Linked DNA regions of Homo sapiens: all the other regions are linked to region 1. The links come from fine-mapping of genetic effects on gene expression. A gene starts in region 1. Each other region holds a variant in brackets. All regions are shown on one strand. Distances are from middle to middle.

Region 1 (10,078 bases):
TCTATGCCTAGTAAGTGTTAGGCACTAGGGATTCAAAATGAATAAGAACTAGTCTCTGGCCTCAAATAATTCCCTGTCTGGTGGGGGACAATGAATTAACCGTGGCAATAAAGCCATGTGAAGGAGTGCAAGGAGAGTACAGAGGCTGGTGTAGGTAACTGTGCCCAGGAAGGCTCCAGAGAGGTGAATTTGAGCTGCGTTGTGAAAGTTGAGCTTCCCAGGTGAGGAAGGGCAGGAGGGGTATTCAGACAGAAAGCCCAGGGCATGTAGGGCGAATGCTAGTGGTGCAGGATGCTTCAGGAAATCTGGTAGCTGGATTATTTTTAAGGGCTTTATTTGACTTATCCTGTAGACAGTGGGAGACTCTGACGGTTTTTGAGCAGCATAGAGATGCTATCAGATCTACATTTTAAAAATTGCTCATAAAATAGCGTGAAGACACAGTGAAGGAAAAACCAAGGGAAATGTGTTAGAAATATTGTCACAGCACAAAAAGGGATGGTGGTGAACTCAGCTTGGGTTGTGGGAATGGGAAAGGAGAGGCAGGGATAGATTTGAGGGAAGTATTGGCCATGTGCTTCTCAGAATATTGTGCACACATTACTCTGCTGTTTCACTTAGCAAGAATAGCAACTTCTAGGGCTCTCCATGTTCATTGGAAAAACAGCTTGTCTGTGAAAATATCAGTGAGTCTTGGCTGGGTTACCTTGGGGGAAAAAGACAATTTCTCTGGGCCTTATCTATAAAATGGGCAACAGACCACATATCCAATAGATGTTATGAAGGTTAAATACAACAAATACAGCATACTGCACATAGAGCATTCTCAACAAATGTTTGTTATTTTTACCTTCTCATAATTTTCCTCACCTCAAAATAAAGTTAATATCAATATACTGCCTTGCTCTGATGAGATAATTGGGTTAATATTAAAATTTAAGATATAGCCATGTTTCCAGCAAATATTTTATTCTTTGAGACGTAGATATGGATATGTATGTATTTATTTCACTCTATGTCAAGATGAAAATAAATACTATCCTTCAGAAGAAAGCTCGGGTAAGTGAAGTATGTTTATAAAGATTTATATATGGAGCTAAATTAATTCTTGAGAACTGAGGTATTTGTAGTCATTATTTTACTTCATTCTGAGAACAAGTACAAATGAGCATGTCAAAAATGACAGTTATTATGCTTTTAAAATTTGATTTCTTACATATTCTAATTATATTCTTTTAATTAGTAACCACTCTTTGTTCTTTCTCTTCCGCAAAGTGAGATTGAACTCAGTTCCTAATGCAAAGCAGTTTGTAATTTTTATGTAAGATGACATGTTATTAAGTAAAAAGAATGACAATTGTTTTTCCACTAAAGACTTAGTGATGACAAAAGAGAATTAAGCAAATCACTGAGGGAATACCTAATTTATTAAGTGTCTTGAGAAAGTCACTGTGTCATCACTATCAGATTCAAATTAAGAGGATGCCTAAGCTGCCTACATTTTGACTTTAGAAATATATCCAAGATTTTGACCAGGCAAAGAACAAAGATGGCACAATTCAAGAGGTTTTAAAAATAGTTGTGAAGCATATTCTTATTAGGAATATGCTTGAGAGCTGTTCAGTTATCGTAATGCTAGACAGCTGCATCTCACTGCCCTGTGGGCCCCGGACTGGCTTCACTACACGCTGCATGCACGGGATTTCACAGAACACTGACAGTCACTTGCATCACCAGTATTCTCTTGACCACAATACCTTGTCACCAGTTTCCCTGCTGCTAGATTTTATTTTACTGTACTTCAGTATAATACCAGCATCGTATACCAGGTTGGTCAAATATTTACAGAGAAAAAGTTGGGAGGGGGTAGTAACGGAGTCTGGAGGAGTTACAGGTATCGAGTCTCCACGGTTCCATTTTATAGGCTATGCACGGCTCTGCTTGTACACTAGAATGATCCAGACATTTTTATTTTGGAGATATATGCTGAAGTATTTAAGGTAGAGTATCTTGGTGTTTGCAATTTGTCTACAAGTGGTTCAGCTAAAAAATAATGGAGAGGCCGGGCACGGTGGCTCACGCCTGTAATCCTAGCACTTTGGGAGGCCGAGGCGGGCGGATCATGAGGTCAGGAGATCGAGACCATCCTGGCTAACACAGTGAAACGCCGTCTCTAATAAAAATACAAAAAATTAGCCAGTTGTGGTGGCGGGCGCCTGTAGTCCCAGCTACTTGGGAGGCTGAGGCAGGAGAATGGTGTGAACCCAGGAGGCGGAGCTTGCAGTGAGCCGAGATCACGCCACTGCACTCCAGCCTGGGCGACAGAGCGAGACTCCATCTCAAAAAAAAAAAAAAATTATGGAGAGACAGAGAGAGAGACTGATGGAGCAAATGTGGCCTTGTGTAATTGGATAAAGGTATATGGGTGTTCCTTCTACCATTCTTTCAATTTTTCTTTACATTGGAAAAATTTTAATATAAAAAGTCAGGAAAACCTCCCCAAAACTTTTTCTTTTCTTTTCTTTTCCTTTCCTTTCCTTCCCTTCCTTCCTTCTTTCTCTTTCTTTCCTTCCTTCCTTCCTTCCTTCCTTCCTTCCTTCCTTCCTTCCTTCCTTCCTTCCTTCTTTCTTTCTTTCTTTCTTTCTTTCTTTCTTTCTTTCTTTCTTTCTTTGACAGAGTCTTACTCTGTCACACAGGCTGGATTGCAATGGTGTGAGCACAGCTCACTGCAGCCTCCAACTCCTAGGCTGAAGCGACACTCCTGCCTTAGCCTCCTTCTGAGTGGCTGGGACTACAGGCATATGCCACCACTCTTGGCTAATTCTTTTAGTTTTTGCAAAGATGGGAATCTCACTATATTGCCCAGGCTGGTCTCAAATTCCTGACCTCAAGCAAGTCTCCTGCCTTGGCCTCCGAAAGTGCTGGGATTACAGGTGTGAGCCACTGCACATAGCCCAAAAACTTCTTAAAAGGTACAATGATAAAGAACTTTTAAAAAAGATTTACCAATAGTTGAAGGACAATAGAATTTGTGACTGCAATAAAGGTCCATAAATACAGCAAAGGTGACCTTGCTTAAAAAATTTTAAGAAACGAAACTTTCTTTTTATTCTGTTAACTATGGTTCCTACTGCCTTTTCCAGAATGAATATACTTAGAATCATACAGTCTGTAGCCTTCTCAGACTGACTTTTCTCATTTAGCTATATGCATTTAAGTTTCCTCCATGTCTTTGTATGGCTTGATAGCTCATTTCTTTTTATCATGAAATAACATTCAATTGTATGGATGTACTGCAATTTGTTTATTCATTCACCTTGTGAGGGACATCTTTGATTCTTCCAGGGTCTCGTGATTATGAATAAACATTCGGGTACAAGTTTTTGTGTGGGCATGTTTTCAGCACAATTGGGTAAATACCTAGGAGTGTGATGGCTGGACTGAATTGTGAGACTATGCTTAGCTTTGTGAGAAACTGCCAGACTGTCTTCCAAAGTGGTCGTACCATTTTGCATTCCCATCGGCAATGGATGGGCATTCCTGTTGTTTTGTATCCTTGCCAGTATTTGGTATCCTTAGGTTTTTTGTTGTTGTTGCCGTTAGCTTTTTTATTTTAGCCATCCTAGTAGGTATGTCATAGTATTTCATTTTTGTTTTAATTTGCAATTCCTTAATGACACATGATATTGAGCATGTTTATTTGCCATCTGTGTATTGTCAACTCCACTTTAGGGAGGTGTCTGTTTAGATCTTTTGCTCACTTGAAAATTGGATTGTTTTTTAATTGACACCTGAGTGGCCTTTTTAAAAAAGTGGGTCTTATGAATAAATAGAGTGAGGGCTCAATCATGAATTCATTTATTCAGCAACTACATCAGGTACTGCCACTCTCATACCCAAGGTCTGCATTCCTCTTTTCCATTACTAACAAAACTCTAATATTCCTCCAGCCAATGCCCCAACTTTAAATACTTAGCATTTCAGACTCCTTTGCAGCTAAAGGTGGTCATGTGACATGTGGCTGGCCAATAAAATGCAAGCAGAAGGTGCTGGGTAAAGCTTCCCAGGAAGATGCAGACCCAACTGGGCATGCACCTCTTTGATCTTTTGCCCTTTACCCATCCCCCTACCATTTTCCTCAATGTGATGCAATGCTTACAAGGGAAGCAGGCATCCTGTGAGGATGAAGACAGAGATCACATGACAAGGATAGCAGAGACAATGGCTAGAAAGAGCCTGAGACACAACGACACCATAGAAGAGATATTACAGAAGCCCTGTGGCTGTCTCCAGGTTTCTGGTTTTGTGATAAGAAGCACTCCTATTTAGTAGGCACTTTTAGTCAAGATTCTGTTACAGGTCACCAATTCACTCCCTGATGCAGCAACATTTTATTAAGGATGAGGCACTTATTAGCGGTGGGCTCTAATCCTCTAACAAGACTGCTCTAAGCAGTTTTTATTTAAAGGACTGGTTCACACAAGACCATATTTGAAATAATTTATTTGTACCATGAACCACAACACTAGGAATAGAATCATATTTACCACATGCTCAGCACTGTACTAGGCATTATAAAAGGAGGAAAGAGGACTGTAAAATAAGGGCCTTATCCTCATGGAACTGATGATCTAATTAGAGAGGTAAGACTGACCTATATGAAACAAACCTGAACACTTTGGGATGATGTGTTTAAGGGCTAACAGTGAGTGCAAACTAAGTGTAGCAGCGGTTTATAAGGCTGGGGTCACCGAAGAGGGAAGCAGCCAGGGAAATATGATTAGCAACCTTGAAAACACTCTGGGTATCTATACTTTCATATTTTTGAGTTCTAAATTAATGACCTAAACATAGACATGGAAGCCATTCCCCTGGGTAAGTGAAGATGAAATGAAGGAAAGTCATTTTAATTTGAATGCCAATTTAGCTTTCAATTCAGCAGACATTTGTCACTCTAGTATCAATATTTAAAATACTGGGTCACTGTAATTATTCACCAAAATCCTGTTTACCTTGTTAATTACCAGCAATTTTTTAAAATGATGGCACTTTATGGAAACTGAATATACGTCATCTTTAAAAAGAGCTTTTAAAATCCCTCCTTTGGAAGTAATGCAGGTTAATAGATTAGACATTTTATGAAGAGGGCTGCATGATTTTTCTACTGCATTTCTGGTGTTGCAAACTTTGGTGAAATTATTAACTGCTATTCATTTTTTCCAACTTTTAGTTGTCTCTAGCTAGATGTTGATCATTATTACACATCTGTAAAGAAAAGAGCAAACCAACTTGAATTAGTGTTTCTTGAACTATTCATTAGAATTTAAAATTTTTTCCTAAAAGTTTTTCAATTTAGTGATCCTATTGGTAAATAAAAAGAATAAAGGCATGCAAATTAAAATAAAGGTAACATTTCTATTAGATGTTTTTAAACCCCTTTCCTTTGTGACCTAGCTTTTCTATCTTGGCTTTTCTATCTTTTCTTCTCTTCCTTTCCTTTCCTCCTTTCTTTTTCTTAAGTTTGTTTATGCCTCAGTCATCTGGTCGCACGTGGCTATGTTCCACTGTGGCAGGGCTTAGCTGGCAGTTTCAGGGATATCTTAGTTTTAATAAGTATTGTGGATTTCCTCACATCTAGGGTGGAGAGAGATTGGTTATAGGGTGATAAAAACAGAAGAATCTGTGTTGAAGGAGATGGGAAGATTTTAAGAATGCTAACGAATTTGAGCAGGGCATAAAACCAACCCATGAACAGGGCTACAGTCCTCTCAGGGTTGCCTGAAGCCTCAGCCCTGGAGGACGTCTGACACCTTACAGGTAGAGGACCTCTGTGCAGGAGCCCTCAACACCCAGGGAGGATTAGGATATAAGCGCAAACTCAAAGGTACTGTAATGGGCACCTAGCAATCAGAGGTGATACAAGGGTCTCTTGGCCCGAAGTATCCCCACCTCTCCTCGCTGGAAAGGACGCTGCCTAAGCCTCATCCCGAGCTGGGGGCGGAGGACCAAGGGTGAGAGCCACCGCCTCCGCAATCCCCCGCCCCTCGGCACCGTCGCTCAGCGCGCTCGCCGGCTCCCTATTGGCCGAGGCACTCGCCAATCCTGGTGAAGCGGCCCCGTGAGTTGGCCCTGGTTGGTGGAGCCGGCACTGAGCCCCCCTCCTGCTCCGGCCGAGCCCCCCCGCCGGGAGGGGGCGTGGCCGCGGCCGTGGACGGGCCGGAGGCGGCGTCGCTCGCGCCGCTGCGTGCGGTGTGGTGCGAGGCGGGTGCGCCGGGCGGCCGCGGCGCGGCGGGACCATGGAGCTCAGAGCGCAGCCCCGGCGCCGGCGGCGGGACCGCGGACCGGTGAGTGAGGGCTGCGGTCGCCCCGGCTCTCCGCTGTAGGCTGCTGTGGCCCTCTCGGCTCCGGGCCGGGCGGCTGTCGGGGGAGGGGCGGCCCCACGGCGAACTGAAGTTGCTGCATCGCCGCGCGCTCCGGCCGGGCGGCGGGGCCCACTGCGGGCTGCGGCGCCGCCTCGCGCCTATCCCTGCAGCCCGGCCGCATTCTCCCGGCCGGCTCCCGCGCTGGCAGGGGCTTCTCGCCGTCACGGCGCGGCCAGGCGGCCCTTCTCTCCCGCGCCTCCGGGCCTCCGGCCCTTTGCCGTCCGGTGCGCGCTCCCTGGACTCGGGACAGCCACCCGCCCTCCCCGCCGTAAGTGGCGCCCGGGCCTCCGCTCGCGCCCCACGCACGACGCCCCGGGCCGCTCCGCGTCCGGGACCTTCGCATCCGTTCAGTGTCTGCGCGCCCTCGCTGGTTCTGGTCCAGCTCCGCGTGCCCCCCGGCCCCATTCGGCCCTCGCCGCCCTGGCCTGTGCCCTCTTGGTGCCCGCGTGCGTGTTGGTTGCGGGCGTCCTCTCCCTCGAGGCTGCGGTGCCGCGTGGCTCCCGGCCTCGGAGACCAGGCCGGACTCTTGGAGTGCAGGGGAGGAGGTGGGGCGGCCCGCGAGTGCGGGGGACCGCGCGCACGGAGCCGCGGCGCGCGGGGTATCATCCCCGGGGGTCTTTACCCGCGCGCCTGGGCTTTAGCGAGGGCAGAAGCTTCCTCTCAGTTTGTGGTGCTGACGTGCAATGGCGATTGCTTCTTGATTTGGCCCCTCTGCAAGGGAGAGTTCCCTGGTGGAGACGAGAGTTCTTAATTATTCAGAAACTATGTGATGGGCTTAGGGATCAATGGGAGCATCATAGGAATTCTTTCTCATTTTAAGGTTAATTTTTAAATTAGCGGTTTACTTCCAGCAACAGTCTCGAGTTTTCAAAAACTGAAAATTAAAAAGACTACTTTTCGCAGTTCTTCAAATTAAATGCATAGCAGAACATGGTATTTTAAGATTCAGAGTCTACTTTTTATAAGGGGGAGAGGATAGCTATTTGAAATATTTTGCATCTTAAAAATTAGGTTTATCTAAAGCTTAAAATGCGACTCTATCAAAACTAAGTTCAAAGTATTGTAATTGACTAATCTTTCTATTGTCTCTAGGGCAAATTCTATTGCTTCTTTTTATATGTGCTTTACCCAACTCTCCTTTTCTAGCAGTTAAACAATGCAGTGGTTCTTTAAAGCTAGTTCTTTTATCTGCTTGAGAGGTTAAACAAACGAAAGCTGGGTTTGACCTTTCCCAAAGGCATTCTCATTGTGTCCTCTCCAGCTCCCTTCTCCCAGGGTTCTAATGACTTCAGTGTAGTACTCATTTTTCTTCATCTTGAAAGATTTTCTTAGTTGGTATTCACAAAAGCTGTGTCTTTTCACATGTTTAAATATTGGAAAGTTTGGTCAACTATTATATTTACCTTCCAACCTGTGCTTATTCTAGAACTATGTACATATAGAAATTGTTCTTGCATTTCCAGTTGGCTGACATGAAGTTGCTTAATAGCATTTGTTTTTAAAAAATCTGTTTGCTTTAAAATTTACAACCTAATAGTCAATGATGTGCTTCACTATCTTCAACAATTACGAAAACAAAGGTGGAACACACTTTGCTAAGTGGTCATGCCAACATTGTAACCTCCTATCTCTTGTCAGTGTGTCTTTGTAGTCACACGTTACGGTTCCCATAGAAACCTATGTATGGCAGGTAACCTTTTGGTTATTGGGATGTTTTGATTAAAACAATTGCGTTATAATGCAAGTATTAAATGAATTGTCCCTACTCACGGGCTAGTACTAGTGATCGTCTTTGGAATTCCAAGGACTTTCTTTGAAGAGTACTCCCAGATTGTTTTTCACTTTGGGTGGCTCTCCATTGCTGTAGACCTTGAATCTCTTTTTCTTTTCTTTTCTTTCTTTCTTTCTTTCTTTTTTTTTTTTTTTTTTTTTTTTTTGAGACGGAGTCTTGCTCTTGTCTCCCAGACTGGAGTGCAGTGGTGTGATCTCGGCTCACTGCAACCTCCGCCTCCTGGGTTCAAGCGATTCTCCTGCCTCAGACTCCCGAGTAGCTGGGAGTACAGGCGCCCGCCACCATGCCCGGCTAATTTTTGTACTTTTAGTAGAGATGCAGTTTCACCATGTTGGACAGATTGGTCTCGAACTCCTGACCTCAGGTTGATCCGCCCACCTCGGCCTCCCAAAATGCTGGGATTACAGGCGTGAGCCACCGCTCCCGGCCGAATCTCTCAACTTCTCTTCTCAGTCCGTTTTAAGGGCCCTGTTTCTTTCAAGTCAGGCTTTTTTTGGCTTTGCTCTTGGGCATGTGGAACTAAATGCTTCTGACAGCCCCACACATTCTTCTTCAGGGCTGGTTCTTTACCTGTGGCTTGACTTTATGCTGGTAATACAGAAATATTTTATGCCAGTAATACATAAATGATGTACATTATAAAATAAACAATATCAACACAGAGATTTATAGAGGTAAAAAGTCTTAAGTTTTCTTTTTCCCGTCTTATTGTTGTCCTATTCCTATTTCTTTCTTCAGAGGTAACCATAATATAGGGTGTATCCTTCTGGATTTTTTCCATTTAATACTGTAGATGAAATATATAACCCTGTATGTTAAAAAAACCATTTCATGAATGCCTACTAGGTACCAGGTACTATTTTAATCACTAGGGTTGCAAAAATAAGAGACAGACGCTTTCAAGATGTTCATAGTCTACCAGGACAAGCAATTACAGTGCAGTGTGATAAGTACCATGATAGAGTCAGTAATCAGTGAGGGATGTAGGAGCCTCATGCATGACCTAATCCATTCATTCATTTGCTTTATTCATTCAGTACACTTCAGAGTTTTAATATGTGCCGGGGATACAGAGATAAACAAGACAGATACCTCTGTCAGCCCCCGATGAGCTTGCTGTGCAGTTCAGTCTCAAAGAGTTTTAACCGTTGGTTACAATGTATTGTTTGATATGGGATCTGAAAGGGGCCAGCAACAAGAGCTCAGAGGAGGACCATAAACCCAAGCTTAGGGACGTTCAGAGAGACAGGAAAGCCTCCCAGAGGAAGCACCATGAGAAGGAATTGGTCGAAGTCTGGGTTGAGGAGAGGGTGTACAGAGAGATGGTCAGGGAGGTGATGCACTGGAGCAACCACAAACACCAGGAGTTCAGTCCAGTGGGGGTGGTTGTGGGCAAGGGCAGGGAAGTGGCAAGAAGTGAGGGAGGAGAAGTAAGGAGGGACTGTGCCTTGTGGGGTCTTGTGATTACTGTTGTGTGGAGTTCGGAGACCTCTGTGGGCAACAGGAAATGGTTGAAGAATTGTAAGCAAAAGAGGGACACGGTCAAATTTGCCCTTTGGAGAATGGATTAGAAGAGGGAAGGCTTGAAGCAGGGAAATTTGAGGAGGTAGAATTGCTGGGATTTGGTCATTGGCCGTGTGTGTGTATGTGGTGGGGGGAGTTGGGGCAGGGAGGAGTTCAGGGCAGTGTCCAGCTCTGGCTGGGTGGTTGGGTGATGGCACTGTCCTTAGGTGGGGACAGAGCAGCATCCATTTTGGGGAAAAGATTATGGGTCACACTTGGCTGGGTTAAGTTTCAGGTGCTGAGGGGACAGTGTGTTCAGTTGGCTGCACTAGGGATCCAGATAATCAGGAGTTGTCTGGAT
Region 2 (10,078 bases), 24 kb after region 1:
TCCATTGAATGTAATGTGTCAGTGTCTCTCCTGTGCATCTAGGATTCTATTAGTTGTATAATGTTCTTGGCAGAACTGAGAACATAGTTAGCCTGTGGTCCAGATGATGAACCTGGGTTGAGAAAGGGATTAGAACCCTCAGGAAAGATACATGTGTAAGTATTTTATGAGTTCTTGCTTGTTCAAAGTTTTTTTATTAGCCTCGTTAGTTGAAGGACAGGTAGGCTTGATATACAATCCTTTTTACTGAGCTTCTTTTCTTATTTTTAGTATTTATTTATTTGAGACAGGTTCTAGAATGATTTTCTACTAGTCTTGCTTTTTATGTTGCTTTGCTAAGTCTGATGCCAGGCTGATTCATTCTCTGATATCATTCTGTGATATCTTTTAGCATGGAGGCCTCGAAGATATCTTTCATATGCGTAAAGTCTAATAGTTTACTAGGTTACATTTTTGGGGTAGTTTGTTCTTGGTCAGTTTTCCCCAGTTGGCTCTTAAAATGTGTAGATTCAGGTCTTTTATTTTCAGGAAGTTTTTTTAGAGTATTATTTTAAATATTCTGTTTTAGTGTTTTGAATATCTTCTTCCAGAGTTTGATGTATATGTATCTTGGAGGTATATGTATTTCTAATTATATAAATATTTGACCCTCTTTGCCTAATTTGTTTTATTCACTTCAACTTTGACCCTTTATACTTCTTTTTAAATTTCACTTTCTTATGGTTGTTTTTCTACTTTTCCTCAATGCCCTTTGTAAAATTTTCATTTGAATCTATTATTCTCCCTTGGACATCTTAATTCCTTCTCTACTATGACTTTTTCTTTCTTTTGTTTCTTTCCTGGGTTCAAGCCACTCCTGTTTCATTACTTTCTTTTTTTTTCCTTTTCTATTTTTACTCTTCTTTGGGGTCTTGAACTGTAAGAGGTCCTGGAACATAAATTTGAGAATTGTTGCATCATACAGTAGTGGTTTACGTGGGGAATTTCAGAAGTACTGAGGCCTTTGACCTAGCCTCAGAAATTGCAGTGGTCTGAAGTGGTACGTGGGCTTTGAATATTTTAAATGATAGCCAGGAGATTGTAATGTTTAGGAACTTCACTGAGATATAGTTTGGAGTGTGGTACATCATGTGCTTATGTAACTTATGTACTTACTATCTCAAAAAAGGTCTAAGTCAGTGGTTCCCAAGTTTTCAGAGAAGAGTCATCTGAAGATCATATTCATTTTTCATAGTTTGTTGTTAGTATGTAGAATTACAGTTAACTTTAAAAATAACTTTATTGTGGAACAATAATAGACTCATTGGAAATGCAAAAATAGTTCACAGAGGTTCTATGTATTCTTTACCCAGCTTCCTCCAGTGGTAACATCCTACGTAACTATAGTATAATATCAAAACCGCCCTTTTGGCTCTCTGAGCAGCACCATGGCTGTTGGCAAGAACAAACGCCTTACGAAAGGAGGCAAAAAGGGAGCCAAGAAGAAAGTGGTTGATCCATTTTCTAAGAAAGAGTGGTATGATGTGAAAGCACCTTCTGTGTTCAATATAAGGAATATTGGAAAGATGCTAGTCACCAGGACCCAAGGAAACAAAATTGCATCTGATGGCCTCAAGGGTCATGTGTTTGAAGTGAGTCTTGCTGATTTGCAGAAAGATGAGATTGCATTTAGAAAATTCAAGCTGATTACTGAAGATGTTCAGGGCAAAAACTTCCTAACTTCCTTGGCATGGATCTTACCTGTGACAAAATGTGTTCCATGGTCAAAAAATGGCAGACAGTGATTAAAGCTCATGTTGATGTCAGGACTACCGATGGTTACTTGCTTTGTCTGTTCTGTGTTGGTTTTCCTAAAAACAATGTAACAATCCGATATGGAAAACCTTTTATGCTCAGCACCAACAGGTCCGCCAAATCCGGAAGAATATGATGGAAATCAAGACCCGGGAGGTGCAGAAAAATGACTTGAAAGAAGTGGTCAATAAATTGATTCCAGACAGCATTGGAAAAGACATAGAAAAGACTTGCCAATCCATTTATCCTCTCCATGATGTCTTCGTTAGAAAAGTAAAAATGCTGAAGAAGCCCAAGTTTGAATTGGGAAAACTCATGGAGCTTCATGGTGAAGGCAGTAGTTCTGGAAAAGCCACTGGGAGCAAGACAGGTGCTAAAGTTGAATGAGCTGATGGATATGAACCACCAGTCCAAGAATCTGTTTAAAGTTCAGACTTATAATAATGGCAAGTAAAAAGTCCTATTTGTGGAAAAAAAAAAATCAAAACCAGGAAATTGACATTGGTACAATCTGCAGACCTTATTCAGATTTCACTAGTTTATACATGCACTCAGTTGTGTGTTCTGTGCAATTTAATCATGTGTATAGGTTCATGTAATCACTACCACATCAAGTTACAGAACTGTTCCATCAGCACAGAGGAACTCCCTTAGGTTTCCTCTTTGTAGTCACTACAGTTGATTTCTTTATATTAATTTGTATCATGTGACTTTGTTGAATTTGTCTTTTAATTCTAGTAGTTTTATTGTGGATTCCTTAGACTTTTTTTTATGTATAGGATCATAAAATGTGGTAATCATGAAATTGACTAGCAAGACAATTTTACCTCTTTTCCAATCTAGATACTTTCTCCTCCTTTCCCCCCTTCTTTTCTTTCCTCCTGCCTTATTGCACTGGATAGAACTTCCTTTAGAATATTGCGTAGAAATTATAAGATTAGATATTCCTCCCTTGTTCCTGATTTCAGGGGGAAAGCATTCAGTCCTTCAACATTAAGTGTGATTTTAGTTGTTTTCTTGTAGACGACTTACCAGGTTGAAAAATTTTTCTTCTAAGTCTAGGAGTTTTTAATCACTGTGATAAGTTTAATAAAGTTGCTACCTTAGCATTCATTTTAGGCCTAACATAAATTGTTCGTAATTCAGTCATGCCCTGTCACCTTTGGCCTAGTTAGAACTTCCCCTCCCTGCAGTTGTTTGCAATATGGCCTACTTGTGCCTCATCTCACTGACCCAAAATGCAACACACCATGAGCTGCCGATCACAGTAAAACCTAATGGTCAGCCTCAGAAGTCATGTGAATAAGTTCCCATTCACATTTGTTTTCTTTAACCAATTCACAAGAAGGAAAGCATAAGGAATAATGTCCCTTAAAGGTGTAGTTCCACAGTTCTTCTTTCTCCCTCTCCCTCCTGCTCCTTCCCTCTCCTGTCTCAGGACCTCCTGTCTGTCTCTGTTTGGCACTCTAACCTCTCTGGGACCTATGAGTAATAAACTTCTTTCGTTTCATGTATTTTGCCTTAGCTTCCTCATTGTGTCTCCATTGAGACACACATACTGTATTGTTCTTGATATCATTTAACATCTTTTCTTTAACAAATCAACAGTCATGAATGGATATTGGATTTTGGGAAATGCTTTTTCTATTGAGATGATCATGTGATTTTGTCCTTTATGATAGTAGTTATTATATTGATTTTTGGAGATTAAGCTAACCTTATATTCTTGGGATACATTTCCTTTTTTTTTTTTTTTTTTTTTTTGTGGGTCAGGGTCTTGCTCTGTTGCACAGGCTGGAGAGCAGTGGTGCAATCATAGCTCACTGTAACCCCAAACTCCGGGCTCAGGTGAGCCTCCCACCTCAGCCTCCTGAGTAGCTTGGACTACTGGTGTGTGCCACTAGGACCAGCGAATTTTTTAAGTTTTTTTTTAAAGATGGGGTCTCACTATGCTGCTGAGGCTGGTCTTGAACCCCTGGCTTCAAGTGGTCCTCTTGCCTTAAGGAGAGAGAAACTAGATTAAAATACAAAAGTAAATACCCAAGCCTAGAGAAGGGGAAAGATAGTGATGACTATTATTAACAAATTAATTATAGTAATTATTATTTTTTGCTTACCATTAGTTAATTTTGGATAGCAGACACATACATTCAAATATTTTAATAGTCCATGAAATATATAGGTGGGTAGTCTGGTTCTAGACACATGTTAAGCTGAAGTGCCAAGGATAGGAAGTAAGGTTGAAAGTAGTGGCATTCTTTTACTGAAAAGACATTTACTTTTTGGGTTGTTTTGCAGGTATAATGGTATCTCATCTACATTGTCACTTTGCCTAGTTTACTATTTTGTTTTTTGTTTGTTTCAGTGAATTCCTGAAAGAGAAAAAATAAACAACATGATTCTCTCTGTAACAGCCCCCTGGACCCCCTCACCCAGTGTTCAGCATGATATAGACCCTTGTGTTTACCCTTTTTTTAAAACCAGGAAATGGCGCTCCTGGTGTTTGGTGTGAGCACTGATTATGCTTGGTCATCAGAAATGAATGAACTGGCAAGGGAAATGAATAAATGAGCTCAGAGAAAGCAAAACTGAATCATGCTGAAGATGCTTTCTAGGATGATTGTATTTCTGAAACCTTAAATCAAGCTTGTCCAACCTATGGCCCATGGGCTGCATGTGGCCCAGAATGGCTTTGAATGCAGCCCAACACAAATTTGTAAATTTTCTTAGAACATTACAAGATTTTTTTGTGATTTATTTATTATTTACTTATTTTTAGCTCATTAGCTGTCTTTAGTGTTAGTGTTAGTGTATTTTATGTGTGGCCCAAGACAATTCTTCTTCCAGTGTGGCCCAGGGAAGCCAAAAGATTGGACACCCCTGCCTTAGATATTGAAAATTAGAGGTGCCTGCATTTCCAGTAATTAAGACAATTCTTACTGTGCATTTTTTTGCTTTCCATTATCTTTCATTAAAAAAATCTCCAACTTTTACCTTTTAGAATATTAGGATAGAATCTTATTAATATGAATACGTCCAAAAGTTGGCTTTTGTGGTTTTCTTTTGTCAGAAGTGCTGTAGGATAATATAACTTAAAACACATACAGTTTTCTGCTTCTCTCAAGATGTTCAGTTGTTTTTCAGAAACACCTGAATGAATGGTGCTAAACTTTCCATGGGCTTTGTCTAAAACTCGACAAGCATTAGATTAATATTTCTTTTGTAGGTCCAATTAGCATTCAAATATTATTCCTGAAGTATTGGATTTCATATGTTATTTTTTGTTGCTTGTTGATATTTTGGTTTTATTTTGGGGGCTGCCTAATTCTCAGGTCAAATTATTTCTGGTAGTTTTGAAATTTCTTTTTTCTTT[CT/C]TTTTTTTTTTTTTTGAGACAGAGTTTTTGCTCTTGTTGCTCAGACTGGAGTGCGATGGCACGATCTCGGCTCACCTCAACCTCCGCCTCCCGGGTTCAAGCGATTCTTCTGCCTCAGCCTCCCGAGTAGCTGGGATTACAGGCGTGTGCCACCACACCCGGCTAATTTTATATTTTTAGTAGAGATGGAGTTTCTCCATGTTGGTCAGGTTGGTCTCGAGCTCCCGACCTCAGGTGATCTGCCCAGCTCGGCCTCCCAAAGTGTTGGGATTACAGGCGTGAGCCACTGCACCCAGCATAAATTTCTTTTTTTTTTTTTTTTAAGGCAAGGTCACACTCCTGTCACCCAAGCTGGGGTGCAGTGGTACAATCTTGGCTCACTGCAAGCTTGACTTCTGGGATCAGTTGATCCCCCCACCTCAGCCTCCTGAGTAGCTGGGATTACAGGCATGTACCACCATGCCTGGCTAATTTTTTGTATTTTTAGAAGAGATGGGGTTTTGCCATGTTGCCCAGGCTGGTCTTGAACTCTTGAGCTCAAGTGATCTGCCTGTCTTGGCCTCCCAAAATGCTGGGATTATAGGTGTGAGCCACTATACCTGGTCAAATTTCTTTTTTTTAAGATTATTTTGAAAGTATCGGTTGTGATAAAATGAGGAAACCATATGTGAATGGATGGAATGTGGTGTCTTTTCCTAAGTTGAATAGAATTTGATTAATCTGACTATCCTCAGAAGATTTTGCAAATTTCATTTAAATTTAAGTTAACAGAATTTCTGAAGTAGTAATCTGAGGAGTTAACCTAGGCCAGCCAATTTTTTTTTTTTTTAACAGTTGAATGAATAGAAATCCAGAAAAGTTTGAGTTGAGCAAGGCATTTTGATCTATTTCCCCACAGAAATCAGTGGGAAAACTTTCACTTTTGTTCCAATCAGAGCAACTCCCTTTTAGTTGTTTAGTGTTTTGATTAAAGTTTTATTTTAAGAAAGGTTCTGCTTTAAAAAAAAAAGTTACAAAACCACTGCTTTTAAGGGGAAGGGATCCCAAATAAGTATGAGTGGAAAGCTATCAGAGTCTCTTGGCTTTTTTAAAAAATTAGCGCCTACTAGAGAGTCTTTCCTTGACAGTTATTTGCTATAAACTAGGCTTTGATATGATCAGAATAGAAGGCATCATTTGGAGTATCAAATACAGAGGAAAATAAAGTGATTCTTCAGCCTTTGCTTTGGCATAGAATGTTACCAGGTATGGACTTAACTATGTTTGCTGAAATTATTTTCAGGTTTTAGAGTCAGGAATGAAGGAACATTCCTTGAGTATTTGATAGATTTGTGGTTTATAGACAGTAAATTCTATAATCGATGAGCTTCCTCTTTAGAAGTTCTTGAACCAAATTTATGGTTCACTGTAAGCCAGTGTATAGGATTTAAAAGGATGAGTCTTTGCATGAGTCTGATTTCTAACTCATTTGATACTTCTTTTTCACTTCCAATAAATGTTATCTTGCTTTCTGAACAAAGTAGGTTATACATAAATGCAATTACATACGGATGGTTCCTGACTATACCTACACCCTTGTGTAGGTTTCAGGCTCTGGACTGGATGCTCTGTTGCCTCTAAGACCTGATGGGACAGGTCAGGAGCAGGGGCTTTGGGGCCAGACTGATTTGTGTTCAAATCTTGACTCTGTTGTTTATTAGCTGTGTGATTCGGGGACATTTCTTAACTTCTGTGATCCTTGATTTCCTAATCTAAAAAAGAAAGCCGGGCCGGGCACGGTGGCTCACACCTGTAATCCTAGCACTTTGGGAGGCCGAGGTGGGCGGATTGCCTGAGCTCAGGAGTTCGAGAACAGCCTGGGCAACACAGTGAAAACCCTGTCTCTACTAAAATACAAAAAATTAGCTAGGTGTGGTGGTGTGCACCTGTAGTCCCAGTTACTCGGGAGGCTGAGGCAGGAGAATTGCTTGAACCCGGGAGGTGGAGGTTGCAGTGAGCCGAGATCATACCACTACACTCTAGCCTGGGTGACCGAGTGAGACTCCGTCTCAAAAAAAAAAAAAAAAAAAAAAAGCCTACCTCACAGTGTTGTACTTAAAGAGTATACTTAAGTAAGAGAATGTAAATAATAAAGTGCTTAGTACTGTACCGAGAATAGAAAATTTCCCAGTAACTGGCAGAGTAAAGAAAGCAGCAATAGAGAGAAAATCCCTAAGAAACCTTCAGATCTGTATGTGTGTTCTGAGACCATACCTTGGAAGAGAGGGCAAAAACAATGTAGGTCTCTTTTTCCAGCTATTAACATATATTCTAATAGGATAGATACCTTGAGAGAATAATTAGTCAATAAGAAAGATAATGACAGGCACCTCTATGGATGCTTAAAATGGGGGCAGAAAGAAATTAATGCTAAAGTGGTAATTTGAAGCCTAGGGTCTTAGTGGAAAGATAGCAATAGCCATGGTAAAGCAGTTTGGACAGTTACTGTGGATAGCATCTATCACTTTTGATAAGAGTACATGTTTGCATAATGATTTATGGGTTAAGTGTCTTTAGTTATGTGATCTCATTTGATGTATACAACACCATAAGGTGGCTTATTATTCAGATGACACTGGTCACATGGGGACAAGTTCCAAAGGGAGCAAGCAAGGACAGAAAAAACAATTATTTTCCGTAATGGTTAAGAAACGGAAAGGTTCTTATAGTCACAAATGGCAAGTGAACAGTAAAGCTGGTTCAAGAAATCCTGATTCTAGTCTAGGGCTCCTTCTCCTATAGTGTTTATTATTTTGTTTTTACTCAAAATGGAAATACTTAAAGATGCAGAGTAGTTCATAATTAGAGTAGGCAGAAGTGGGGGTGAAGCTAAGAGTCGAAGGCTCCTTAAGCCCAAGTAGGAGTTATTTTCTGCTAGGTAGTGTCTTTCATTGAAAATTCCTTATTTCATTGAAAATTTTTTTAAATTATGAATTTGATTATATTACTTGTTATTTCTTTGAACCATTTTTCAGAAGAATGACCCTGAGCACACTCTGCTATGGTGTTTGTACTTTACCCTCTGTATTTCATTTCTAGAACATCCTTTTCCCACTTCTTTTAGCTTCGACCATCTTTTGAAGCCACTCTAGCTTTGTTGGAGTTTGCTTTGTGATCAGGAGGCTACCTAAAGCCTGTTTCAGTCTCTTCAAATAGCTACAGCAGCGGCAGATAGTAACAGGAGTCAGAAGTGTGGTTGCCACTCAAGTAGCCCAAAAAGGTTTGCAGTGCAGAAGCTGAAATGGCTTACCACAGATGTGATCCACTTAAAAAGGTTCTGAAAACTCAATTCAGTGAAGTGTGTTTGGGCTCAGTGCATTGGACCTGTGACTTCCTGTAATGTTTACTTAACCCCCTAACTTCTAAGTGGTACCTCCCCCACCTCCCTGGAGGGGAAAAAGATACGCAATTGGTTTTGCAGGATTATGGAGATCAAACAAGCATCTAACAAAGACTCTTCCTTCCAGGTACCTCTTTCTCTCTTCCCTCTCATCATAGATTAATCACTTAGTTGCAAGGGACCAGTAAATTAACAGAATGGTGAACATTTTCCTTTTCTTGGTGCTTTTGCTGGATGACTAGTGGTTTCTGCTGGAACAGAGATGAACCATCTCAAGGTTATGAAAATTCCTGACTGTGGCAAATGTGAAAGAGTGTCTTTTTAATTCCTGGGAAATACTAAGACTTCTTCTCTAAGGTGCTTATTTGTAAAGTAAAAAGGTGACCTTAATTTCCAGTGCTATGCAGTGAACACAATTTTTGTGGAAACTAGTTCTAGGATTTGAAATGAAGACTATATGGTCTCTGTTAATCTGTATTGGTAAACGCACTGCACTTTATTGAGAGTTCTGGTCGTTAACCAGCGGAATTACTAGTATTATAGAAATTTATTAAGGATGGCTTATTGGAGTTGACTTGTAATTTCAGTCATTTCTTTGTAATTACGAGGTAAAAGATGATTTGTCTTGAGTTTAATTATTTCTGTAAGTTAAAATAAGGAATTTGTAAAGCATTCCTCAGTTTTATGTTCAGTTATCTAGGAAACATGCAGCAAAGAAAGGATGTGAGATAATTATTCAGAAATTTTAGTTGCTCGTGGTTGTGTGTTGAAGGCATATACGTGACAAGCAGTTTTGGAATTTCTTGCAAAGTCAGTATTGCCCTATAGATTGACCTTACAGAAAGTCCTTATTGTGTGTTTCAAAGTCTTCTTTGTAAATTAAAATATGAAAGCTGTTGTTACTCTGCTGATAGTTCTGATAACTCATGCTAACTAAATAGTTAAGGGAGTGGAAGAATACAGCCAGCATTCCATCATCTGGAAGGAAAATAGTGAGGTGGCAGATCCCTGCCTGACTCAGCTTTCACCATGCCATAAATAATATCATTTTCCCAAGCAATACTGTGGAATGCAAAAAGAAAGAAAAATGTAAAAAAAAAAAAAGTGGACTGAGATGAAGAAAGCCAATTTATAGTTGTAATAAATAATATTTTGTGTCAAAAAGGAAGAACAAATTGACAAGAACTTGGAGAAATACCAGCTATGGATAAAGGGAAATAAAAATGATGGAAATCCAGATGGTATAGAACTAAAGATCCAAATGTAAACAGCAGCTGTTTACATTAATTATCTTGTGGATGGAGTCCCTCACTGAGCTGATATGCTGTTACGTTAGTGCTTTCAGGTTTTGGGTTGAATCACTTAGGTATGCCTACACACTTGCTTTGAGAAAAATCATATGGTTAGCTGTGCTTTCCTTAATAATGATAAGTTAAATAACTATAATTTTACTATACTCAGTCATATGGAGAGATTTGAAGACTGAAGTATAATTCTGTGTTACTGCTAGTTGGTAAGCAGATGTCCCTAC
Region 3 (10,078 bases), 62 kb after region 1:
CCATCCTGGCTAACACAGTGAAAGCCCATCTCTACTAAAAACACACAACAATTAGTCGGGTGTGGTGGCATGTGCCTGTAATTCCAGCTGCTTGGGAGGCTGAGGCCCGAGAATGGTGTGAACCCAGAAGGCGGAGCTTGCAGTGAGCCGAGATCGTGCCACTGCACTCCAGCCTGGCGACAGAGTGAGACTCCATCTCAAGAAAACCTCAAAAAACCAAAAGCAAACCTAGTCAGTTTTACAATAATTTACTCTGAACTGAGGTGGTGGTGATCGTGATAGTGGCTAAAATGAGGTTTTTGAATTATTTATGGATTTCAGTGACCTGTCTTACTCTAATTTTAAGGGGTAATTGAGGAGCAATGAGACATAGCAGACTAGTAGGGCAAGTTATTTCTTTGAGCTTCACTTTCCTCATATGCAGAATACTATCATCTGTCTTGCCTGATTTATGAAACTGTAAAAATCAAATGAGAGGATGTATATGGAATTTTCCTTTTCTTTCTTTCTTTTTTCTTTTGGAAGGATAGGGAGAGAATAACACGTCTTTTGGTTTTAAGATGATATTGAAAGAGAACATAAGGTAGAAGAAAGGCTATTATACCAGAATTAGAAGCTGGAAGATTGATCTCTAATCCTAGCTTGCCTTGACCTTGGGCATATCATTACATATTAATTTACCATAGGAAAATTGAACTTGATTTCCATACTTTCACTTTACAGGTAATTTTTCAGGAATGTATCTGTGTTCTCTGACCAAGTTTAATTAAGCTAGAAATCAGTATCACATACCCAAGAAATTCCAAAATATTTTGAAATTAATGATCACAGCCTGAAAATCCATGGTTAAAGAGGAGCTTACAAGGCAAAATACTTTGAATTGAATGAAAAGGAAAGCGTAACGTATCAAAATATATGCGATGCACCTAAAGCACTACTTTAAGGGGAAATTTATAGTGTTAAATGCTTATATTAGAAAATAAAAGTTAAATAGCTTTTGGGCTTTTCCTGTATGTCATGATGGGTTACAGGCTGATTGTAGTTCTGATAAATGGTTTCTTTCACTTCCTATCCAATTTATATGAAAAGGGGAGATAGTTAAATTTTTTTGTCAGGCAAGCATTTATTTTTTAACACGGATACTGTCTAGTATTTGTGTTCCACTTTATAGTTTTTGGGGGGCTTTCAGGTGTGTCATCTCACCACAGCCTTTTGAGATAACCAGGCAGATATTACTGCTTTCATATTTAGAATAAGGACTTGAGGCTTATGGAGGTCTCAGCTCTTGAAGAACTCGGGGCTTCTGCTTGCCACGCCATCTGCTTGTTTTGCTGCTGTGCTGCATTTCCAGGCTTTTTGTAGAAGCGCTGTCTGTGTTCAGACTGTTGTTGTAGGTGGCACACTCTGATTAGCTTGGTGAGGCAGATTCTGTTGGATGAGGGAATTCTCTAGGAGGAGTGCTTTTTCTTAGGCATTTCCGTTGGTGTTTGTATTATGCCCATCAGAGGTGGCCTTTTTTTAAGTACCGTTTTGGAGCTATGTCTATCTGGTTGCTAAATGTGTCTTTCCTGTCTCATTTCTTTTATCATGATATTTAGTCCTGTGTGTGGCTAACAGTCGACTTATTTTTACTTGACCTTCATGTTAGAATGTACATATTAAATAAATGTTCAGTGATCTCCTACTTTGTCATACTCAGATTATCTGTTGCCACAGATTTGTTTTTTTTGGTTTTTGTTTTTGTTTTGATTTTTTTTTGAGACGGAGTCTCGCTCTGTCACCAGGCTGGCAGGCAGTGGTATAATCTCGGCTCACTGCAACCTCTGACTCCCTGGTTCAAGCGATTCTCCTGCCTCAGCCTCCCGAGTAGCTGGGGTTACAGGCATGTGCCACCATGTCCAGCTAATTTTTGTATTTTTAATAGAGACAGGGTTTCACCATGTTGGCCAGGATGGTCTCGATCTCCTGACCTTGTGATCCCCCTGCCTCTGCCTCCCGAAGTGCTGGGATTACAAGTGTGAGCCACTGTGCCCAGCCCACAGATTCATTTTTAAACTGCTTTATTGTGGAATAATTGACATACAGTAAACTATGCTTATTTAAAATGTATAATTTGATAAGTTATTTGAAATATGTATACACCCATGATACCATCAATGTAGTTGAACTGGTGACCGTTGTTTCCTCATGGCCCTTGGTCATTTTTCCCTTTTGTTTCCCTCCTACCCTCACATAACGGCTGCTCTGCTTTCTGTCCCTATAGATAAGTTTATATTTCCTAGAATGTTATGTAAATGGAATAATACAGTATGTAGTATTTTCGTCTGGCTTTCATTCAGCATAGAGATTCATCTCTTGTTGTTGCATGTATCAGTAGTTCATTCCATGTTATCATTGAATAGTACCTCACTGTATGGATGTAATGCAGTTTGTTTGTCCATTCACCTGCTAATGGACACTTGGATTGTTTCTAGTTTTTGGCTGTTACAAATAAAGCTGCATGAACATTCATATACAAGTCTTTATGTGGGCACATGCTTTTATTTATTTTGGGTAAATATCTAGGAGTAGAATGGCTGGATCGTGTGATAAGTGTATGTTTAACTTTTTAAGAAACTTGCAAACCATTTTCCAAAGATTATTTTGTTTCTCTTGAGCAGTGGATGATAGTTCCAGTTCATCCATGTTCTCATAAGCACTCTGTATGAACAGTCTTTTTAAGTTTAGCCATTCTCATCAGTGTGCAGTCATATCTCCTGCGGTTTTAATTTGCCTCTCCTTAATGACTAATGCTGTTGAGCATTTTTCATGTGCTTGCTTGCCATCTGCATAACTTCTTTAGTGAAGTGTCTGTTCAAATCTTGTGCCCATTTTAAGAAATTGGGTACTTTATTATAGATTTTCAAGAATTCTTTATATATTCTGTATCAGATCTTTATCAGATATATGATTTGTAGTTTTATTCATTTTAATAGCATTTTTTTTCCTTTTTACCCCAGAATGAAATTTTTGGGAGCCAATATGGGATTATTTTTTGGTTTTATTTTTTGCACTTTCCCCAACTCCCATAAAAGTAGTTACTCTTTGTCATCTTCCTTTTCTTCCATTTTCTGGCAGGGCACTTAGTTTGTATTCTCTTTTTGGGGGGCTGTACATGAGTCAATAGCTGTGCAGGACAGAAGACCCCTAATTAGTGAATATGTTTGCATGGCTGGGATGGTCAGCTCTTTATTTCTGGAGGTTGGAGATCTGCCATTCCAATTGTCATCAGTATTGACTCGTTGTCCCTGGGGTGTAGTCAAAGGCCTCACCTGAAGTACTACAAGGTCAGAAGCCAGAACAGGGCCAGATTCAGATTCAATGATGAAAATGCTGGCGACAATTCACCAACATCCCTTGATTTTTACATGTTCATTTCTGATTGAATTGTATTGTGCTTACTGTGTGATTGTAATTTTCTGTGTGATTGCAGTTAACTTTTTTGTGTGACCTAATTCATAGCTTTTTTTCTTACAACTTTTCCGTGTTTTCTTTTTTAAATATGCATTCTCACATCTATGTATAACATTTTTAAAAACTATCAATTAACACTTGTTAATTGTATTATTCAAATCTTGGTCTTTGTTGGTTTCTGAGAAAAGTATGTTGGGTCTTCTACAAAAGGATAATAAAAGTTCATAATTGTCATTTTTAGTGTTTTTTTTTTACCAATTGAATATGATAAGTGTCTTCCCCTCCATCTGTTTTTGTTGCGTTCACCTTGAGTTTCTCTTGTGTCTTAGAGCCTGACTCCCTTTTGTTGTTAGCATTTGCCTGGTGTATATTTTTAATCTCTTTATTTTTATCACTCCTAGTTATTTCATTTTAGATGTATTCTTGAATATTTATCTTACAAAACCCAAACAACTCAGTGTGTTGCTGCTTTGTTCAGTGGAGGCTGTTTGGTGAGTGGTAAGGACATGGACTGAGTCCAGGCTGCCTGGGGTTGAATTCAGGCACTGCATAAACTGGCTGTGTGGTGTCTGTCAAGTTTACTTAAATATTAGTGCCTGTTTCTTCCCTATACAATGGAAATATTAATAGTTTCTATCTCATTTTATAAGAATTAAATGAGCTAATATATGTAAAATTCTTGACAGTGCATGGCACATTCTATAAGTGGTTTGGCTGTGTTCCCACCCAAAATCTCATGTTGAGTTGTAGTCCCCATAATCCCTACGTGTCAAGGGAGAGACCAGGTGGAGGTAATTGAATCATGGGGGCAGTCTCCCCCATGATGTTCTTGTGATAGTGAATTCTCATGAGATCTGATGATTTTTTAAGTGTTTGGTAGTTCCTCCTGCATTCATTCTCCCTCCGGCTGCCTTGTGAAGAAGGTGCCTTGCTTCCCCTTTGCCCTCCGCCATGTTGGTAAGTTTCCTGAGGCCTCCCCAGCCACGTGAAACTGTGATTCAATTAAACCTCTTTCCCTTCTAAATTACCCAGTCTTGGGAGTATCTTTTTAGCAGTGTGAAAACAGACGAATATGAAGTCTTAGCCATTAATAGTGAGTTCACCCATTAACACTTACTGTGATTATTTGGAAGGCCATAGTCACTATTAGTGCCTCCTTTTTGTTAAAAAAATTAATACTTTCTTGTCCATTGCTGACTTTATTACAATTTTTTCCTGTAATGGTTTGTTATTTATATATCCAGTATCTTCTAGTTGTTTGTACGAAATCAAAATATTGATCATGCAGATAACACCTGAATATATACGTCTTTTAAAAACTTGCAACACATTTGCAATTAAAGTACCTTTTGAGTCTCAGCTCTGTTCCTCCTCCCTTAGAATAATAAATTCATTATTATGAATTTGAGACATTTCCTTCTCTGACACACACTCTCTCGCTCTCTCTCTCTCCCCACCGTCTCCCCCACCTCCGCCCCCCCGTCTCTTTCATACATGTAGGACTACATAGTACTTTTTACTAAATGGCATACTGTAATTATGAACTTTGTATTTTTCATTCACTGCTATGTTTTGGAGGACACTCCATATATATATTTATCTTGTTTCTTTTAACAGCTGCCTTTCCCCTATTGGTAGTCATTTCCAGTTTATCTCTATGTCAAACAGTGCTGCTGTGAACATTCTTGTACATGAATTCTGTGCACAAGTGAGAATGTTTCTCAGAATAAGAGATGGAAATGCTAGGGTCCATAGTATGCATATTCCTAGTTTTATTAGATATAATTCTTTCAAAGGACAATTTGATGGTTGGCTGCCATTTGTATTTCTCTGGTGTAAATTGCCAAGATCTTTTCATTGTGGTTCTCCAACCACACATCTCGTGGCCACAGTCCTTCCTGTCATATTTTTGGCTTGTGGTTTCTTCCTTTAATCTCATCCCGTTGCCTTTCAACTTTGGAGGTTATCT[A/G]TCATTTGTAGTCCTGTAGTATTGTTGCACATATTTTAAATGTACATCTTTTTCATCATTTCTGTGGGTTTGAAACAAAGGAGAAGCCTAGTCTAGGTGCTCTGTTTATTATATTCTATTTCTATAATCTTCCATTTCAAATTATATAATTTTTGAAAGGATTTCCTATGAATGAGCTAAGGTTATGCACATACATGCCATACACAACCTGCTTATAAGTGTCTCATTTTAATGGAGAAATATGCTTAGCATATGCTGCAGCCTTAAATGGAAAGTAGATTACATTTAATCCCAAATCAAGGAAATGGAGATTGTTGTTCTTCCTTGTCTGAAATGTCACCTTAAACTGCTGTTTTCCTTAGTTTACCCACAGCAGCATTTCTGTAAGTCTCCTTGGAGGCTGGGTATATATTCTAGTCTTATGCACACAGCTTCCTGGCAGACATCAAATGGAATTTGACTTACCAGATGTCGTACTGAATCATGGTCTGCAGAGATGCGGATGGATCACATCCTTGGCTGGGGAAGTGGGGTGGATACAAATATCTGGGTCAACTCAGTGGTTAACCAAAGGTTAGTCATGTTATAAAAAGTCATGTATATCAAAAATACAAAACAGAGTAAGATAGGGGGTCTGAAGCTTATGCATGCAATCAGCAACAAGGCAGTGTCAGGAGTTGAAGGACCAGACAAAACCATCTGTTTAATAAGATAATAAAATCTGATATAAAAGGAACCTTGGAAATGTAAACCACCTCCTTCCTTTTTGGTCAGAGCTGACTCTTAATGACAAATGATCAGGTGCTTAGAGGGTTAAGAATGGGGAGGGACCTGCTGGGATAGAGGGAAAGAGAATGAATAGAAGCATCATATTAGAAGTCAAGGATTACTTGAATACCAAAGCAGACAACTTTCCCCTCCTTGGCTGCCTTTTTATCCTGGTAAGACACAGAAATGAAGTAGCCTTGGCTTACTGGCATATTTATAATTGGGACCTGTAGGAAGCGTTTACAATGGGGATGTGGTGGGCAGAGCACCAGTGGAAGTGAGAGACCGAGATTCTAGTGTCTACTCCAGGATGTAGGAGATTTTGGGTCTCTTTGTCTTAATCTTTGATTGTAAAATAAAGTTATGCTAGATCTCCAAGGTTCCATTTATCTTAAAATTTTTTTTATTAAGTAGCTGATTTTGTCTGGCTGATCAAAACAGGGAAGAAAAATAGTTCCTGGTCAAAGCATCTCGGAGGTTCCTGGGTTAATAATGTGCATCAGAATAAATTTTTATGCACAATAAAGGACTATAAAACAGATGTAGGTTCAAATATTAAATGTATTCTTGAATCCCACATGTTCTGAGTATCTAGTTAAATGAACACCATGGTCTAAAAGGACTTAGAAATAAAATATGGGTATATTTTAAAAATATTTTTTATCTAATAGGAATTTAGTGATTTATTTAACTTTAAAAAGTCTGAATTAAATGAACATAACACAGAGCATAAAGATTAATTGAAGCATAGATATGTAGAGCGTGGCAAGTTGTAGAACAGCAGCTTTTTTCAGAGCTCCCTTTACCCTGTCCATGGCTAGAAGAGAAAGGCAGGGAGACCAAAGGCTTGATCTTCACAGGCTCCCACACCACTTCTGTATCCCCACCCATGATACGTTGTTCTTCACTTTTACTCCGAGATTTCTTCCCACAACAGAGAAACTGCAAGACAGGAGCTAATGGTGAAAACCCTGGTGGAGAGAAATCTTGACCTAGACTTCAAATCCCTACCTTTTCAGTTAGAACCATATTAGCTTCTACCTGGAGGATCTTTATATGCCATTTTGTGGCCCTTGAAAGACAAACTGTGTCCCAGAATGTCCTCTAAAAATAGGTACTTGACAAGGTTTTTCATTACATTATTCCATAGACACAAAGTTGCCTTTTTCTGGGAGACTTATTATTTAGTTGTTGAGGCTGTATAGCAAAAGCTAAGTGACGTTTTAAAATGGTGGAATGCTGCTTCTAAGCCTTGAGTGAGAGCTTCACTCTTCCATCCTCAAACGTCTGTTGAATAGCTTCCCGATGCTGAGCAGGATGCTGGGGGGTCTGTGATGCCGTGTCATCTCCCATTCCCCACTGAGAATGGAGTATTTCTAGTTGCGTTTTAATTTCCAGGAATGAGACATACCTTTAATGTAGTGCTTATCACACTGTGTTGTAACTTTATTTATATGCCTGTCTCTGCCACTAAACCATTAGCATCTTGAGGAATGGGGTTTGTTTTATTTTCGTTTGTTCAGTTTTTGCATTTCCACTAGCTAAAGCATCATGAAAACACACTGAATGTTTGGAGAGTAGGTGAATCTGATATGGTAGTTTCTGAAAGCCAGCTGAATGTCTAACTGAAAAGGAAAGTATGCCAGAGCTGGAGGGAACCCAAGAGAGCAAATCTGTTCTGCAGGAGAAGAAACTGAGGCCCACCCTGATGAAGAAACTGAGGCCCACCCTGATGAAGAAACTTGCACAGAGTCGTGTAGTGTTAGTGGCAGAACTTGGACTAGAACCCCAGTTCCCCAATTCCTAGTCCTTTGCTGCTTCACTGTACCTCTCTGTCTCCCATCCTGTGGAAACATACAGACCACATTTCAAAGAGCAAAGTGTGAACATTTGTCCCAGTGAAATGAGGTTGATTGAATTTTATGTGGTCTTTCTTCCTTCCCTCCCCCTAAATCACAACTTTTAATAAAGCTTTAAAAAGAAGCAGTGTGGCTCTAGAAGGCAGTGTGCGAAGTGAGGAGTTTAGGAAGCTGAGGCCCTTCCTTTGGCGGTGGGAATGTTATGTTAGTGAGTATCTTTTGGGAGTTGTCAGTAGGCACTTAACTCCAAGCAGAGTGCTGTAAAGTGGAGGCAGGCAGACATAGCCCTTGTCCTTCAAAATGAGAAGGCCACACTGAGGGGAAAGGTCAGAGGAAGGGCTTGGGCCAGCATTGTGTCACTCTACTCTATGGGCCCTGGCTACTTTTGCTTGGGTCACTTTCATTCCGAGGGCAAAACTCATACATACAAGTAAAACATGGTTAAAAAGCCCAACATCTGCAGTATACACACATTTAGTTTTGTGTGTATAATATAGTCTGTGCCACATGTTTTAGTGCTATCATGCACTGTGCTCTAATTACCTGGCATGCAGCAATCAGAGCAAAGGTTACCAGCACATAGAAGAGAGAATCATTAACACTGTCAGGTTCTGCAAACTGGTTGTTCTGAAAGCTCAAAGGTCAGTCTTTAATGGCTGCATAGTGGAGAAAGAAATCCACTACAAAATCTATTCAGTTAATTTTGTATAGTCAACTACCTCTACCTACCAGTAATATCGTTTTAAAATATGTAATAAAGACTTAATGCAGTTAACATGTTACTCTACATCCCATGAACCCTTACTGCGGTGGAGAATGACCACAGTTGTGGGCTTCAGTTTATTTGCCCCATTACAGTGTATTCTATGCATGAAAGCTGTTATCCATGTTAATAGAGTAGTGGTGGTGTTCTTTTCTTTCCAGAATAGTCTGCTCTCTTTGGGGTCTGCACACATAAATTCTTAAGAGTGTACTCATATGTTCACTCATTGAGAATATCAGTTTACTTAGCTGGACGTGGTGGTGGGTGCTTGTAATCCCAGCTACTCGGGAAACTGAGGAAGAAGAATCACTTGAACCCGGGAGATGGAGGTTGCAGTGAGCCAAGATCGCACCAGTGCACTGCAGCTTGGGAGACAAAGCGAGACTCCGTCTCAAAAAAAAAAAAATCTGTTTACTGTTTCTTTCTTTTTTTGTGAAAATAGTTATCAGCTCAATGTCTTAACAAAAGAAGAAGCTGATATGTTACCCTTGTTCTTACTGTGAAGGTGGAGTTTCTCTTCCAATTAGGATATAAGAGAACATTGCTTCTATTTTAAGAAACAAAAAAGGCCAGATTATCTAGAAAGCAATAACTTTTCTTAAATCCCAAAGGGTGACAAACCCATCTGAGAGTAGACAGGACACTTGAACTGTTTCACATTTAGCAGAGCACAGGGGGAACAGGTAACCATCATAGAAGTGCATAAGAAGAATTCAGCAAAAATTGTAATGCATTCTTAAGGTTGAGTATGGGCTAATGCATCAGTTTAGGATAACCAGGTACCCCAGATACAAGGGGAAGGTTACACTTACTCATAAGCTGTTTTCTACAGCCCTCCACTGGGTACTCTTAAGAAAGCTTATGAGCAAGCCTGGAGACTAGACAGAACCTCTTTTGATCGTGCTGCTCTGCGGGAGGTAATCTCAGCTGCCACTGGGAGACAGGCATGATGTAACACCTGCTTCCCCACAGCCTTCTCTCCTATGACAGAGTTCCCAGGAGGGCAATGAAACCTCTAGCCCATAGGACTCAGCAAAGATCTATTTCTGGCAGAGGTTTAGGAAACCCTCTTTCCTGCCCTGTGACCAGCAAGATCCTCTGCTTCTGGGACGAAGGGTAATTAATAGCAAAAGCAGGACAGACTCTTAGGCTCATAATCTTTCACTGATGCAAAGCAAAGTTCTCTTTCTGCTGCATGAGGGACAGGAACTCTTTCATGCCCAAGACAGGGACAAATATCAGGCAGAGTTTAGTTGTGTTGGAGAA

Alleles and levels. Positions count from the first base shown, and alleles are read on the strand shown. Sizes are in standard deviations (SD) of each study's normalised expression. Not every link is listed here.
For the expression in macrophages after interferon gamma of the gene that starts at base 6,208 in region 1, C is the high allele of the variant in region 2 and CT is the other (moderate effect, 0.74 SD a copy in Alasoo 2018).

Evidence for each region. PIP is the estimated chance that this variant, and not a neighbour inherited with it, causes the effect.
Region 2: its variant is fine-mapped to the expression of WASF3 in macrophages after interferon gamma (Alasoo 2018, PIP 0.91).
Region 3: its variant is fine-mapped to the expression of WASF3 in blood mononuclear cells (TOPMed, PIP 0.95).

The regions. Positions count from the first base shown.
Region 1 is chr13:26,551,476-26,561,553 of GRCh38, forward strand. It overlaps WASF3 (WASP family member 3), which reads left to right and starts at 6,208. Exons shown (of 10, transcript NM_006646.6): 1 at 6,208-6,344. RefSeq lists silencers at 5,782-5,841, 6,102-6,311.
Region 2 is chr13:26,575,459-26,585,536 of GRCh38, forward strand. The region is part of intron 1 of WASF3 (WASP family member 3); the gene reads left to right. It also overlaps the pseudogene RPS3AP44. Among named protein-coding and RNA genes, the nearest start is that of WASF3, 23 kb to the left of the region's middle. The variant CT/C (reference allele first, on the strand shown) is at 5,168.
Region 3 is chr13:26,613,570-26,623,647 of GRCh38, forward strand. The region is part of intron 2 of WASF3 (WASP family member 3); the gene reads left to right. Among named protein-coding and RNA genes, the nearest start is that of WASF3, 61 kb to the left of the region's middle. The variant A/G (reference allele first, on the strand shown) is at 5,423.